Linked DNA regions of Homo sapiens: region 2 is linked to region 1. A link means that fine-mapping ties the variant in region 1 to the expression of a gene that starts in the linked region. Tissue or cell type: whole blood. Region 1 holds a variant in brackets; the other region holds the start of a gene. All regions are shown on one strand. Distances are from middle to middle.

The links. PIP is the estimated chance that this variant, and not a neighbour inherited with it, causes the effect.
Region 2: it holds the start of MAP3K6, and the variant in region 1 is fine-mapped to the expression of MAP3K6 in whole blood (INTERVAL, PIP above 0.99).

The regions. Positions count from the first base shown.
Region 1 is chr1:27,604,651-27,612,753 of GRCh38, reverse strand. It overlaps FGR (FGR proto-oncogene, Src family tyrosine kinase), which reads left to right. Exons shown (of 13, transcript NM_005248.3): 13 at 1-690. Among named protein-coding and RNA genes, the nearest start is that of AHDC1, 4.6 kb to the right of the region's middle. RefSeq lists enhancers at 5,302-6,150, 6,042-6,336. The variant G/A (reference allele first, on the strand shown) is at 4,592.
Region 2 is chr1:27,361,903-27,370,005 of GRCh38, reverse strand. It overlaps MAP3K6 (mitogen-activated protein kinase kinase kinase 6), which reads left to right and starts at 3,045. Exons shown (of 29, transcript NM_004672.5): 1 at 3,045-3,748; 2 at 5,094-5,233; 3 at 5,322-5,345; 4 at 5,612-5,802; 5 at 5,921-6,089; 6 at 6,458-6,564; 7 at 6,985-7,155; 8 at 7,253-7,365; 9 at 7,756-7,915. The coding sequence starts at 3,409. FCN3 (ficolin 3) reads left to right here. Exons shown (of 8, transcript NM_003665.4): 8 at 529-896. The coding sequence ends at 770. RefSeq lists enhancers at 2,179-3,120, 3,121-4,064 and silencers at 3,317-3,426, 3,457-3,676, 3,747-3,796, 4,387-4,456.

The DNA of each region.
Region 1 (8,103 bases):
ACAGATGGGGCAAAAGGAGGCCCAGAGCTGATCTCTCATCCGCTCTGGCCCCAAGCACTATTTCTTCCTTTTCCACTTAGGCCCCTACATGCCTGTAGCCTTTCTCACTCCATCCCCACCCAAAGTGCTCAGACCTTGTCTAGTTATTTATAAAACTGTATGTACCTCCCTCACTTCTCTCCTATCACTGCTTTCCTACTCTCCTTTTATCTCACTCTAGTCCAGGTGCCAAGAATTTCCCTTCTACCCTCTATTCTCTTGTGTCTGTAAGTTACAAAGTCAGGAAAAGTCTTGGCTGGACCCCTTTCCTGCTGGGTGGATGCAGTGGTCCAGGACTGGGGTCTGGGCCCAGGTTTGAGGGAGAAGGTTGCAGAGCACTTCCCACCTCTCTGAATAGTGTGTATGTGTTGGTTTATTGATTCTGTAAATAAGTAAAATGACAATATGAATCCTCAAACCATGAAATACCCTTGAACCTTCCTTTGGGAGCGGGGGTGGTCAATAGGGGGTGAACGGACAGATATGGCTACAGGCAGCAGCAGGGGAAGCTGGAGAGGGCCCTAATGCCTACCAAGCACGGGGCATCCAAGGTGTGGAGTTTTAGAACACCCAGAGTCCCACTGCTCATCTGCACGTGAGTTTAGAAGACAAGCAGCTGAAGATACATTAAAATGTCCCCTTCGTTGCTGATATGGCCTTCAATCTGTGTATAATAGGTTTGCTAATTCTTTATCTGAGTTCATCAGATTTGCCATTCATCACAGGCGCAATGGGACAACCTTAGGCCTCCTTTGCCAGGGCAGGGAGGAAGACCACAGTGGACCCTCTGGAGCTGTCAGACTCTCCAAAAGAGGACAGAAGAGAGGGGAGGAGAGAGAAGAGGCCTGAGGGTTAGTCTAACTCACTGGATCTCATTAGGGGAGTTTTGCCCCCAGGGGAGCTTTTGGAGAGGTTTGAAGGCAGTTTGATTTGTTTGGATCCTACAGGTAGGGTTCAGGGATGCTGAACAATCTGCAGTGCACCTGCGCGATGATGAATCTTCCCACTCCCTCGTTCCCCTGAGAGAAACTCTGGAAGCTGACATGCCTCCGTGTGGAAACAAGGGGAGCAGGGAATAAAGATTCCCACCTCTCCCATCAGAAAATGTTTGTTGACCATCTGACTTACTAAGGGAATGGACAGAGAAGGAATCTGGGAGCTGGGAATCACTGCAGCAATTGGCAAATCATTACTGAGCATTGACTCTGCAAAGCATTGACTCTTTGCTAAGGAGGACCCTGGGAACACAAACATGAATAAGACCTGTCCCTGCCCTGGAGGAGGAGTTCATAGTCAAGCAGAGGAGGAAAATTATAATAATAATAACTCACTTATTAAGTGTCTTCTGAATGTCAGATGTATTTACAGCCATCTTTTCAATTTAATCCAGTACTGAGCCTGGTTCTGTGATTAGCCCCATTTGTAGGTGAGAAAACTGAGGCTCAGGGGTTACATGATGTACCAAGAGCATGCAGTGTATGTGACAGAGCTAGGATTTGAACCTAGATCTTACACCAAAGCTCATGGTCTTTTCACTAGACTTCATTGCCTCTAGGCTTTGGGAAGAGAGCCTCTGTGGAGTGTGTGTGTGTGCGTGTGTGTGTGTGTGTGTGTGTGTGTGTGATCCTTCCTCCTCTAGTTATTGGTAGAAAGATTCCCTGGAAATCCTCCTATGCTGGGTGACCTAAAGGAAAGAAAGATAAGGCAATCAATGCAGATTGAGAATTCCCTGTGTCCTGCCCTGTGCTGGGGGTTGCTGAATGAGAGCAGTAAGATGGAGAGAAGCCAAATGGCTGCTCAGAGGGGTTGTCATAGGGGTGGGAGCCTTAGCTCCACAGAAAAAGTCTCAGGGGCCAAGGCTTCCCAAGGGCCACAGTTTCTGGCTGACCAAACTCACAAGAGCCTGATGTATAAGCCAGAGGCCAGTGATTCTGCCTGCCATGAAATAAGCAGAGAAGAGCACGGCTCTGGAGCTGTAGTGCCTGGTGTGAATCCTGCCTCCACCACTCACTAGCTGTGTGGTTTAGTGCAAGTTTTTCACCTCTCGAAGCCTCAATTTCCTCATCTGTGAAATAGTAATCAAATGATCAATACATGTGAGCTCTCTCTGTCACTACCATTTGCAAATTGTTGACTGTGTGCCAGGCATCCTGCTAAGTGCATGCATGCTGCGATTTTATCCTCGCAGATCCCTATGAGGAGGAGTTTGTTGTATCTTCATGTTGCTAATGAGGAAACTGAGGCACAGTGAAGTGAATCAGCAGGACAGAAGTGGCAGAGCAGGGGCTTACACCAAGTCTTCTGACTCCAAAATCAGTGCTCTCAGTCTCCACAGCCTTTTTCTGGGACCAGAATATTCTTGTCTGCCCTACAGGGCTCTGTCTGGTACCAGGATGCCCGTTTGGTTTCAATGAAAGCCCAGCAGGGCAGTGAACCACCTGGAGTTCACCAGGGCCCTCGCTGCTCCTCAGTAGAGACCAGAGCCTCCTGAGCCTGGAATCCCTGTGTCTACTGGTGCCTTCCTTGTCTCTCCCTCTGAAACAGCTAGATGAATTCTCCCTTGCACCCCGTTTTCTGTGCAGCCTTCTGTTCCCTTCAGATAGAGCACAATGCAATTGATTAGGCTTCTGCTTTCTCAATTTCAATCACATCCTCGCCCTGCCTCCCTGAGATTACAGGCGGGTCACCTTGATTGCGGTTTGCACCGTTCACAAAACTCTTCAGTCGTTTACAAAACCATCTCTCGCCTCATTCACTCCCCCACCTGGCTCTTCTCCTCCGTGATGCGTGGATTTTACTGGTTTAAGACTCAGAGGGCAATTTTATTTCCAAGTTCATGGTGGGGGAGGAGGACACCTAATTGACTAATGCGGGTATTTTGCATGCATCATCTAATTTGATCTTCACCACAAGGCAGCGCAGATGTGTGATTATCCCCATTTTACAAAAGAGGAAACAAGACTCTGAGAGGCTACAACACTGGCTCAAGGTCATACAGGTGGATGGTACAGCCAGGATTTGAACTCAAAGTCTCATGTGTTCCCCGGGTCACATTTCTTTATTTGAAGGAGCAGCATGGGAAAGTGTCATATTGACCCAGAGTCAGGTCCAGGAAGGGCCTGGTGCACGTAGGGCTCAGGGGTAGCTCCCTACATGCTGAGGATTGTACTCGTAAAAGAACTAAGTCATTTATTAATTTCACACACATCTACTGATGTCTCCTGTAGGCTGGTCCTGTCTAGGAGGCAAAACAGTAAACAATGACAACACTTAGGGGCAAGGTCAGTCTGGGAGCCAAGTCTGGGGGATTTCTTGGAGTCTGTGAAATAAAAGTCTGCCTGATGAAGCAGCCAGAGGGTGAGGTCATCTCCAGCAGAGGGAACAGCATGTGCAAAGGCCCAGACGTATGGTAGAGTAAGGCCCATTCAGGCCAGGCAAGTGCCAATAATTAGGCATGGGAGGGCTGAGGGTGCAGATGAGGCATGGAAGACGAGGGATGGAGAGTCAGAGGCAAGAAGTAGGAGGGGGAAAGCCAAGGGGTATGGGCTCTGAGTTGTGGGGAAAAGAAAGAAGAAATCTGGGGGACCCAGGACTTATTGTGGGGAATGGAGTCTACTCTGGATCCCACTGCTCCGGGACTGAGCTGAGTGGATCCTCTCTCCACTCCACCAGGTACAGTATCGAAGACACACACACACACACACACACACACACACACACACACACACCCCAGGTACAGTATCGAAGACACACACACACACACATACCCCAGGTACAGTATTGAAGACACACACACACACACACACACACACCCCAGGTACAGTATCGAAGACACACACACACACACACACACACACACACACACACACACACGAGCCTGGATGGTCCTGCAGTGATGTTCACACTCTCTCTAGTGGTGACTCTGAGTACTACATCCAAAACTGCAAGAAACTTTCCCCCCTCCCGGGATGGGAGAACCAGGTCTCTTCAGAAACTTCCCACCACAGGACAGGAGATATGGCACAGTTCCTGCTCTCAAAGAGGTCACAGTTTAATGGTGATGGGTGCTAACAGGACAGATGCGGGCAGAAAATGACAATAAAGCTATGTGGGAGAACAGGGGAGAGTCCTAACTCAACTGGGCAGGGGGAAGTCTGGGAGGCTTCTCAGAGGAGGTGTTGATTCATCAGAAACAAGAGTAAGAGTTTGCTTGGTAAAGAAAGAAGCAACAGAAGGACATTCCAGACTGGACAGAATTAAGTGAGCTCAAAGGCAAGAAATGAGACTGCTCAGGGAGTTACAATTAGGTAGGTGTGCTAGGAATGTGAAATTTCAGAGGGGTTAGTGGCTAAAGATGAAGATGGCAAAGGCAGGCATGGGTCTTGTCTACCATGCACTCAAGCTGGGATCCTAAGCCTTGGACAATGGGGAGCCACTGAAGGGTTTTGAGCAGGTCAGATTCACTTTTTTTTTTTTTTTTAGACGGAGTCTCACTGTTGCCCAGGCTGGAGTGCAGTGGTGCCATCTCAGCTCACTGCAACCTCTGCCTCCC[G/A]GGTTCAAGTGATTCTCCTGCCTCAGCCTCCCAAGTAGCTGGGACTACAGGCGGGAGCCACCACGCCTGGCTTATTTTTGTATTTTTAGTAGACACGGGGTTTTGCCATATTGGCCAGGGTTATCTCGAACTCCTGACCTCAAGTGATCCGCCCGCCTCGGCCTCCCAAACTGCTGGGATTACAGGCATGAGCCACTGCGCCCAGCCAGATTCACTTTCAGAAGGAACTCTTTGGTGACAATGGAGAGGAAAGATAGGAGGCGAAGAGGCAGGAGACGGACACCCCTCTGGGACACAAAGAACCATACCAGGTCACACTCATAGGACACACAGCTTTGACCGCGCCTATGAACCAGACATAGCGATACAAGTAATGGCACCTACAGACGTGTCAGTGGGATCCCAGGCTGAGCACCCACAGACAAACATGCACTGCTTCACACTCAGACACAGAAGTCAGGCCTGCAAGCGAAAGCAAACCGAGGACACAGGGTTACCCCCCAGACACAGGCGCACAGCGGGAATCACACAACCCTGACGGCCACAGGAATTCACACACACTCAGTGTGGCTGTCAAGGGCCCGACCCTGCTCCCCCTCTGTCTCCCCCAGGTCCCTCACCACCTCCGGCAGGAACAAAGCTGACCTTTGCCCTCTGGCCTCTGGCCTCTCCTCCCACACCCCCTGCCCCAGAGGGAGGAGCTGTTTGAAGTCTGGGCTGCAGCTGGGGTTTCCTGTGGCCTAGAGGAATGTGGGAGGACTTGCACGGGGGAGGGGAAAGGGGCTGGCCCAGGAGGAGGGCTAACAGAGCCTGGGGGCCTTAGTCCCCACTGTACCACAATGAGGGAGGCTTCCTGCTTGCGTGGTCTCTTGGGCTCCAGCTTTGAGCTGTTCCCATCCAAAGAAGGGGAAAACCAGGGCCATAATGGCTCCAGTCCAATGGGCCTCTTGTTCCTGGATCTGCAGCTCAATAGCTTAGGATAGGCCCGCAACCTCTCTAAGCCTCCGTCTCCCCTTCTGCATACTGGGCTGAACCACCCTCTAGCAGTCCACACCTCTCCTGAGCAGCCCCAGGAGTAGGGCCACCCCCAGAACTTCCATATTCAGGGAGGGCCGTGCTAGTCCCTACCCAAGACTCACTTCATCCTGCCCTTTCCATGAGGTCTGGGGGCCTGGCTCCAGGCTGCTGGGACCTGTCAGTTATTGTCATTATTAGTGTGACTCATCATCTCTCTCACCATGCCCTTGCCAGTTTTCACAGTGCTTTTACATCTATATGCTCAGTTAATCTTCTCAACAGCTCTGCTTCTATTTTACACATGGGAAAACTGAGACTCACACAGATTGAGGACACACAAGTAAAATCAAGATCAGGACCAGGCCTGTCTAGCTCCTGCTCCACATGGCCTCTCAAACCCAAGGCCCCATTCCAGACTCTCATCTTTATTTTCCAGGGTCTAGCTACACCACCTTCTGCTTACACCGAAACAAAAGCGGCTGGAGGGAGCTGAGCCCAGAGAGGGATGATGCAGGCTCTTCCAGAACCTGTGTCCTCTGCCTCAAGCCTTCTTTCCCTCCTGCTCGCTGACAACTGCTGAAGCAGAAACGAAGATTAGACACTAGGTGGCAGCAGCAGCCCACGGGAAGACAACTTGAGTTTGGGGAGACCACCCCCCGCCAAACTCAACACAATTTGGAGAGGCTCCACGAAAAAGACCAGCCCCCAAATAACAGGGAGACTCTGCAATGCTTGGTTTCCAGTGATGATCAACACTTTAAGGGCCAATGGAATTCACCCTCACAGGGGAAGGGGACCGCTGAAGTAGCCTGGGGTGGGAGGGGCATGCTCGAGAAACCCTACCTAACTTCTATTTCCCTCTAACTCATAGAGCCATGGGCCCTACTAATCTTGCCCTCTGCATCTCATTACTTAACCTCCCCCTCCCATGCTTTTCCCAAACTCCCCTTCATCTCAACCTACTGGGGCTCTCCACACCCCAGAAACCATCCTATATTATCCCACCCAACTCCCTCCTAAAACTTGATTCAAACTGAGTAGAGTCTTCATGACTACAGGCAGAATCTAATGGGTAATGGGGGAAGGGAGAGAAAGGAGGAGGAACCTGGGTCTCTTTCACCCTCCCCAACGCCGAAGTCTGTCTGTCCTATAGGGGGCCAGCTAGGGCAAGGTGCCAAAGCCTCATCTATTTGGGATCACTTCAGGCCCAGGCTTTGGAGCTGCAGAATCTCTAATGACTTTAGCCACTACTTTTATGAGCATCTGACCTTATATTTCCCATTCAATGAATAAATCTTTGAACCCAAGTCCTAACTTGTCTGCAAGGAGAAGCTGCTCCAAGATGAGGGCCTCTCCAGTCGGTCATGGCAGCCCCATGATGCCAAATCAATAGTGTCCCGTTTAGAGCCCTAGACCTCTCCTATTACTGCTGCACACACCCTCTGCCAAGGGCCAATAGAGAGTGTTCCCCAGATCCCCTCTCTTGTCCTCTGGGGGTACTGGACTGCCATAGAGAAGGAGCTTGGAAGGAGTGAAGGTGTGGGGAAGATAGTGACCAGGGAGTTGCGGTTGGCAAAATGTCACCAGCTGCCTTTGTCACACACTGGCCAACACCCTGCAAGGCCAAAGGAAGAGTCAGAAACAGGTAGGCCAGAGACAAAGGCACTGCTCTAGGAACTTCAGACCTGGAGCAAGATAGACAAGGCCAGCAGACACAGGGTGTGGAACATCAGACACACAGATGAGGTGGTCCAGTGAGGTGGGACCGCCGCAGGGCCAGTCAGGGCCGGCGTTGGTAGACACCTAGGACACAGGACACGACAGCCACTATGCATTATTCATCTCCGTGTCCCTTGCAAGCCCTGCATACCTCAGTTAACATTTGTTGAAGTGCCAAGAAAGGACACACAGACACAGGGAGAGAAGGTCAGTTACAGAAATGGAGGGAGTCACAACTCCTTGTCATAGCCCAGGGGTTAAGCTTGTGGGGTTTGGAGTTAGTCAGACCCTGGTTCAAATCCAGCTGGGTTCAGCCACTTGCTAACTGGAGAACCTGGACCTCAGTGCCCCCATCTCTAAAATGGAAATAACAGCACTATTTTACCGCAGCAGTTCAGCCATCTCCGGGGGCGGTAACAAGGCCCCCAAGCAGCGCACATTCCCATCTGTGGGATAGGCTAGGCAGGGGCTGGAGAACACATGTGACCTGAAGAGGAGGTAGGTGAAAGTGCTGAGCCCAGCCCCCGGCCGCGGCAGGAGGTCAGCACCGTTCAATCTGAATCCTGCTTCCTGACACAACGCAAATGCTCAGCAGAATTCGGAAAAGGGTGTGTGTGTTCTATCTGCGGATTATCCAGGACTTTTGAGCCCTCGCCGCCCTTGGACATATAGGAAAGCTGGGAGTTGCAAGGGCGAAACCGAGGTCGGAGTTTGAGAGGAGGGGTCACTGAGTGAGGAAGCAGCGCTGGCTGGGTCTCCCCCGCTCCCCCGCCCCA
Region 2 (8,103 bases), 240 kb after region 1:
GGGGGAGCGCAGGGAGGCAAGGAGGAAGTTTTGGGTGCCGCCTGAGGCTCTGTTGAGTGTTAGTGTTCTCTGCTTTGGAAGAGGAACCACGGAAGTCTTCTTTCAGAGAAACAGTGACTATTGGGGAGAGATTTAAAAGAGGGAAGTGGTTATGAGGGAGTGCCTCAGGGAACCACCTTTCCTGGCCAGGCACCTAAGAGGTTCCTCCCAGCTTTTCCTAGCAGAGTTGCTCAGACTGGATGGGAGCTGAGAGAAGACAAAGGAGCTAGAGGGGGGCCGGGGATTCTGGAGGGGGTAAGACAGGGGGAAAAGCTGGGAGCTTTGGAGCCAGACAGTCCCGAGTTCAAGTCCTGCCGCTGCTTCAACCAGCCGAGTAACCCTGCGCAAACAACCTGGCCCCTTGGTGTTGCTCGTGGGGCCTGATAAAATTCAACTCTTAGTTGCTCTGAGACTCCCATGGCATTATATCTCCAAAGGTGCCAGGCGTGGTGCTGGGCACCAAGGTGCTTTCCATCCCTTCCCTGCTAGGGGATTCCCTGAGCCTCCACAGTGGGAGGCCCTTTACCACCTATGACGCTGACCACGATTCAAGCAACAGCAACTGTGCAGTGATTGTCCACGGTGCCTGGTGGTATGCATCCTGTTACCGATCAAATCTCAATGGTCGCTATGCAGTGTCTGAGGCTGCCGCCCACAAATATGGCATTGACTGGGCCTCAGGCCGTGGTGTGGGCCACCCCTACCGCAGGGTTCGGATGATGCTTCGATAGGGCACTCTGGCAGCCAGTGCCCTTATCTCTCCTGTACAGCTTCCGGATCGTCAGCCACCTTGCCTTTGCCAACCACCTCTGCTTGCCTGTCCACATTTAAAAATAAAATCATTTTAGCCCTTTCAAGACTCTTCCAGTTACTGGGAAAAAACCCTAGAGGGCAGAGCAGGGACACAAGTTTCAGCTCCATTCAGGGAAGAATTTCCTTCCAGTCAGGAAGATGGAAAGGACAGCCTCTAAAGTAGTGAGGCTTCTGTCTCTGGAGGTGTGCAAGACAAGGCCAGAGGGGCATATAGTGGAAGGACTGGAGGAGATTCAAGCATCCATTGACAATTTCCTGAGGCTCTCTGGGTCCTGCAAGTGGATGGCTTTGTGGCAGGAATTGCACAATTGCACAGCTTTTTTGTTTGTTTGTTTGTTTGTTTGTTTTTGAGACGCAGTCTCGCTCTGTCGCCCAGGCTGGAGTGCAGTGGCACCATCCTGGCTCACTGCAAGCTCTGCCTCCCAGGTTCACGCCATTCTCCTGCCTCAGCCTCCCGAGTAGCTGGAACTACAGGCACCCGTTACCACGCCCGGCGAATTTTTTGTATTTTTAGTAGAGACGGGGTTTCATCATGTTAGCCAGGATGGTCTCAATCTCCTGACCTCATGATCTGCCCTCCTCGGCCTCCCAAAGTGCTGGGATTACAGGTGTGAGCCACTGCGCCCGGCCGCTTTTTTTTTTTTTTTTTTTTTGAGATGGAGTCTTGCTCTGTCGCCCTGCCCAGGCTGGAGTGCAATGAGCCAGAGGGGCATACAGTGGAAGGATTAGAGGAGATCCAAGCATCCATTGACAATTTCCCGAGGCCCTCTGGGTCCTGCAAGTGGATGGCTTTGTGGCAGGAATTGCACAATTGCATAGCTTTTTTTTTTTTTGAGATGGAGTCTTGCTCTGTCGCCCCGCCCAGGCTGGAGTGCAATGGCACGATCTCCACTCACCGCAACCTCCATCTCCCAGGTTCAAGTGATTCTCCTGCCTCAGCTCCCAAGTAGCTGGGATCACAGGCAGGTGCCACCACACCCAGCTACTTTTTTTTGTATTTTTAGTAGAGACGGGGTTTCACCATGTTGGCCAGGCTGGTCTCGAACTCCTGACCTCGTGATCCACTCATCTTGGCCTCCCAAAGTGGGATTACAGGCATGAGCCACCGCCCTGGCTGGGAATTGCACAGCTTTCTCAGCCTGTCGGTTGCCCATGCCTGTCCTTTGTAAGTTGTCTGTTTTCCACTCCAGCCTCTGTTGCAGGCCAAGTTCTCAAACTCTACCACTTCCTGCCTATCTCATTGGGTGTCAGTTCGAATCCAAGGTCAAACCAAGGAAGGTACCTTTTTCTTCCACAAGGCAACAGGGCAATGAAACAGCCATTGAGTAGCATTTAAGCAGTTTATTTGCCCAAAGCCACATTCTAGTAAGTGGCAGAATTAAATAGTTAAGAGTCTGACAGGCGGTCCTGGGTTTGCACCCTGCTGTCATGTGCTGAGTGATCCTGGACAAGTTATTCAACTTAAGTCCCCAGTTCTTGGTTTCAGGGTCCACTGAGGCTTCTACCAGGTTGCTGCCTCACTCATTAATTCACACAAGAAAGTTGGGGACTCTTGGGGATTTGAAGCTGAGAAGCTGCTGTAGTGCAAAGGGCTGGGGTTGACTCCTTCAAGGGGTGGCTAAAGAAATGTTTAGAGTTGTTTAGAGTAGGAAGTGCTTCTCAGGTCCCATGGCCACGTTCTGCCTAGAAGTCAAAGGTCAGCGGGGGTCCACAGCAGGTTGGGTCCTGGGGAAAGCAGCCCCCTAGTGACAGTTAAGGCTCAGATGCCAAGTCCCACTCCAGGACTGAAGGCTTTCGGGCAAGCGGCCTAGGGTGTAGGTTTCCCCCATCCCAGTCCCTCCCTGCCTGCGCTCACTGGGCCCGGGAGGACACCCATTGTTCATCATGCTCTGCGCACCCTGATGTCTCTAGAGAGCCATTCATTCAACAGATACCTGCAGAGCAGGGCCTGCATATCGAACCTTTTCCCTAGCCCTGGCCTCCTCACACATTTTATGTGCACTTGCTGTGAGCAGTCCACAGTCTTTGGCGTGCACAGGGGCACAGGCTGTTCCGGAAGCCGCCAGTCTCCAAAGTTCTGGCGGGAGAGAAGGGAGGGGAGAGGCTGAGTCTCAAGCCGCTAGGGAGCGGCTCTGCCCCAGGGCCGAGGGTGGAGCTTTCTGGGTCGGCCGGGAAAGGGCTGGGCTTAGCCTACAAGTGAAGGCAGGGCAGCGTTGGCGGGCGCTCCCTTGAGAAGTCCAGGTGGCGGGCACCTCCGAGCCGATTCCCAGGATCCCCCAAGTGGCTCTGAGCTGCCGATCACCGGATGCCCCAGATTCCTGGGACCCAATCCCGGATTTCAGAACCTCAGGACCTTGCAAGTCCGAGCTAGGATTTCTCCCTGGACTTTAGATTCCTGGAACGGGACGTCAGGCCGTATTCCGGATCCCTAGATCCCGTGGGAGATTCTCCGATTCCGAACGGATTCCAGATCCCAAGATTCCTGATCTGCCGGCCCAGGCTCCTGCCCCGCCCCCGGTTCCCAGTGCGCGGCGCCCCGCGCCTGAGCGCCCCCGCATGGCGGGGCCGTGTCCCCGGTCCGGGGCGGAGCGCGCCGGCAGCTGCTGGCAGGACCCGCTGGCCGTGGCGCTGAGCCGGGGCCGGCAGCTCGCGGCGCCCCCGGGCCGGGGCTGCGCGCGGAGCCGGCCGCTCAGCGTGGTCTACGTGCTGACCCGGGAGCCGCAGCCCGGGCTCGAGCCTCGGGAGGGAACCGAGGCGGAGCCGCTGCCCCTGCGCTGCCTGCGCGAGGCTTGCGCGCAGGTCCCCCGGCCGCGGCCGCCCCCGCAGCTGCGCAGCCTGCCCTTCGGGACGCTGGAGCTAGGCGACACCGCGGCTCTGGATGCCTTCTACAACGCGGGTGAGAGCGCTGGGGGCGGGGCCGGATCCGGGCGGGACTCAGGGTCCTGGGAGGGGACCAAGCCGGGCTCGAAGGCTCAAGGGAGGGGCCGAGAGGGGTACCGGGTCTAGGGGACTTAAAGTGAGCTAAAGCTGAAGGGCTTGGGACAGGGCCGTGAAAAAAGTGGGATTTAGGGGATCTGGGGCGCGGCCGGGCTCGGGACGAGACAGGGATCCGGGCGCGGCTCTAGGGCTCGAGGTTGGGGCTTAGGCACCCTTCAGTCGGAGCGGTGCCCAGCCAGCGGGGCAAGGATGGGGAGGGGCTTTGGAACTCTGGGGCGGGGCGGGGAGCGGCGCGGGGCTGTGGTGTCTCAGGGGTGGGGTTGGAGAACTCAGCCTCACCCTCAGGAGAATGTCACGCGGATCTCTTGAGGACAATTACTGGGAGAGGAGCTTGGACTTAGGGAAAGGGGCCGGGAGGCTGGAGTTCAGGAGTCCTAGCATACTATTTCCAAGGATCGGGCTAGGAGAGGCAAAAAGAGAAGCGAAGGGGCCCGACGGGACTGGATACTGGGTGAGGGAGCTTAGGTTAAGTGGCCTCAGCGGCCCAGAAAGAATGGGCGGGGAAGGGGCGGGGAAGTGGGCGGGAAAGGATGGCTCAGGGGCGGGGCCAGAAGGAGGCTATTCCCCCGCGAGTCACTCCTCCCTCCAGCCAGCCCGGATGCTCGGCCCCCATACTTACTTGCTTATGCTAGAGTCCAGTAGCTGTGCTTCCTGGATGTCCATGAAATCGTAGCCTAAAATGAAGGCTGACCCGACCACTCGGACACAAAGATACAATTATCGACAGACACAAATCGCATACATGTTGACTCATGCAGGCCCTAGCAGACGCTGTCACACACACAGATACAGTCAGACATAGTAAGCTATACATGTCACAGATATACACATACATACATTTAGGCACAGCGTTGTCTATGCACACTGATGGTAGCCCCTTTCAAGAGCCTGTGCTGAAGACCAAAGGGAGGGGACTTCTATGTTTGCGCAACTCCCACCTCCTAAATGGCCCGTAACAGACTCAACTGGTCCACAGCCTCCCTTCCCCCATGCCAGGTGCTCACAGGCTCTGAACCGTGGCCTGAGGGTCCCAACCCAGTGAGCCCAACTCCTCTCCTGCAACACTACAGAGATCAGTTCTGTGAAAGTGCCAGGGGAACCCTAAAAAGGGCCGACTGAAGCCCAAAGCAGAACCAGACCCTACTGGAGTCCCACAGCAAGGCAGGTCAAGCCAGGATGGACCCCGGCTCCTTCCCCATCAAGCTGGGCTTCAGGGATCAGCGCCACCCCCTCTGTGCCTGCAGATGTGGTGGTGCTGGAGGTGAGCAGCTCGCTGGTACAGCCCTCCCTGTTCTACCACCTTGGTGTGCGTGAGAGCTTCAGCATGACCAACAATGTGCTCCTCTGCTCCCAGGCCGACCTCCCTGACCTGCAGGCCCTGCGGGTAGGTGGCCTGGGGCTGGTGGAGGCAGGCACAGGGCTGGGGTAAGGCCTACACAGAACACCAGTATCTGACTGTCTGCCTCCTGCAGGAGGATGTTTTCCAGAAGAACTCGGTGAGCAGAATCCACCTCTCACTCAAAAGTGCCCTTTGACTTCCGCTATGACCTCTGACCTCCACTAATCCCCCTGGCCTCCTCAGTCACCTAACCCCCCACTGACATCCCAAGTATTCCTCTGTTTCCTGTTGCCTCCTCTCATGACGGGTGCCCCTTTCCTGCGATTCCAATTCCCACTGATGCTGACCTTTGATGCTCTCACTCCCCTTGTCTAGCCCTGTGCTGACCTCTGACCTCACTGATTCCTGCCTCCCTCCCACCAGGATTGCGTTGGCAGCTACACACTGATCCCCTATGTGGTGACGGCCACTGGTCGGGTGCTGTGTGGTGATGCAGGCCTTCTGCGGGGCCTGGCTGATGGGCTGGTACAGGCTGGAGTGGGGACCGAGGCCCTGCTCACTCCCCTGGTGGGCCGGCTTGCCCGCCTGCTGGAGGCCACACCCACAGACTCTTGGTAATGAAGGCCCCCAGGGAGGGTGCTCCAGGAGGGGGCTGGTGAGGGTATGGTGGGCTGGGGCTGAGGTACAGGCCCCACCATTCTCTCTCCCTGCCTCCCCTACCCTGGGCATCAGTGGCTATTTCCGGGAGACCATTCGGCGGGACATCCGGCAGGCGCGGGAGCGGTTCAGTGGGCCACAGCTGCGGCAGGAGCTGGCTCGCCTGCAGCGGAGACTGGACAGCGTGGAGCTGCTGAGCCCCGACATCATCATGAACTTGCTGCTCTCCTACCGCGATGTGCAGGTGCGTGGTGTTCAGAGAGGCAGTAGGGCAGCTGGCATTTGAGGTCAGACAAACCCAAGTTCAGTTCCTGGCTGGGCCACTTGCTCACTGGTGGCTTTGGGCAAATTATCCAATGTCTCTGAGTGTTGGCCTCCTTATTTGTTAGAGAGGATGAGCATGTCGCTGCCTCCTGGGGCAGTTGTGGGGTTGGGAACGCCCAGCATGGGGCATACAGTAGGTTCTCCCTGTGAGGTGTGTCCGCTGGGCCTGAGGGAGGCGTGCAGAAGATGGTGGCTGGGTGGGATGTCAGGAGTGGGACAGGACCCTGGCTCAAGGTTCCTTGGGGCCTGGAGGCCCATGATGCCAGTGCTTGCCGTTCCCTGATGCAGGACTACTCGGCCATCATTGAGCTGGTGGAGACGCTGCAGGCCTTGCCCACCTGTGATGTGGCCGAGCAGCATAATGTCTGCTTCCACTACACTTTTGCCCTCAACCGGTGAGTGGCAGAGCAAGGGTTAGGTCATAGCCACATAAAGGTTTCCGAAACCTAGGTCTCTGCGTGCAAAGCCATTGCTGTCTGGGATCACTGCTGTTCGGGGAATTTGCTGACCGGGGTCACTGATGTCAATAGGTCCCTGTTGTTCTGAGTTACTGCTGCCTGGGTCGGGGTGGGGGAGGTGGTGCTGCCTGTGGTATGGTCACCGCTGTCCAAGATCACTGCTCCTAAGAGTCATCGCATCTAGGAATCACTTCCATCTGAGGTCACTAGAGAGGTCAGTGCTGGCCAGGGTCATTATCATTTTGAGGTCATTATTGTCAGGCCCCTGGAAGGGTCCCTGCTGGTTCAGTGTCTAGAGGTCCCTGGACAGAGTAGGCCAGGGCCATCAGGGAGGGCCTGAGCCCATCTTTTCCCTAGGAGGAACAGGCCTGGGGACCGGGCGAAGGCCCTGTCTGTGCTGCTGCCGCTGGTACAGCTTGAGGGCTCTGTGGCGCCCGATCTGTACTGCATGTGTGGCCGTATCTACAAGGACATGTTCTTCAGCTCGGGTTTCCAGGATGCTGGGCACCGGGAGCAGGCCTATCACTGGTAAAGAGCACAGTGAGTGGCCGGTGGGCTAAGCTGTGAGATGAGGGGTGGTGCTGTGGGCATCAGTCCAGCCCTGTGCCCCCTACCCCCACCCCAGGTATCGCAAGGCTTTTGACGTAGAGCCCAGCCTTCACTCAGGCATCAATGCAGCTGTGCTCCTCATTGCTGCCGGGCAGCACTTTGAGGATTCCAAAGAGCTCCGGCTAATAGGTGAGCACAGATCCTGGCTCTTGTCTCGTCACCCACAGGGGTTCCGAGGGGCCTGGGAAGAGGGCAGGGAGAGAGCACACTGGGCAAGAGCTAGGATGAGCTCATCCATTTTGGACTGTCCTGCCCATACCCACACCTGGGTCCTCATACCTGTTCTGGGCCCTCAGGAGCCCTCAAACCCACAAATGTTCCCAAACTCACATCTGCGTGTCCATTACATCCTGAATTCCACATATACCTGTGCCTGAGCTCCTGTTCCCACCCGAGATCTTGCCATACTCAATGCCATACTCATATCTATGTTCATGTCCACACTCGGGCCCACAGAAATGGTGGGCCTCACTCACCCCTGCACCCACACTCACTGGAGCCCATGCCTCTCTCCCCCAGGCATGAAGCTGGGCTGCCTGCTGGCCCGCAAAGGCTGCGTGGAGAAGATGCAGTATTACTGGGATGTGGGTTTCTACCTGGGAGCCCAGATCCTCGCCAATGACCCCACCCAGGTGGTGCTGGCTGCAGAGCAGCTGTATAAGCTCAATGCCCCCATATGGTAGGTGGCCCCCTCTGCATTCTTGGCCTGACCTGGGCTGTCAGCTCCTGCACCTATGTCCATTGGCATGCTAGACTGAACCCTGAGCCAATGACCTGGCTGCTTTTAGACCAGTGCCCGTGGCACCCCATGCCAACGTTCTAGCTATATCCAGGCCAGTTTCCTCTCCCTGGCAGTGCTGGTTGGTG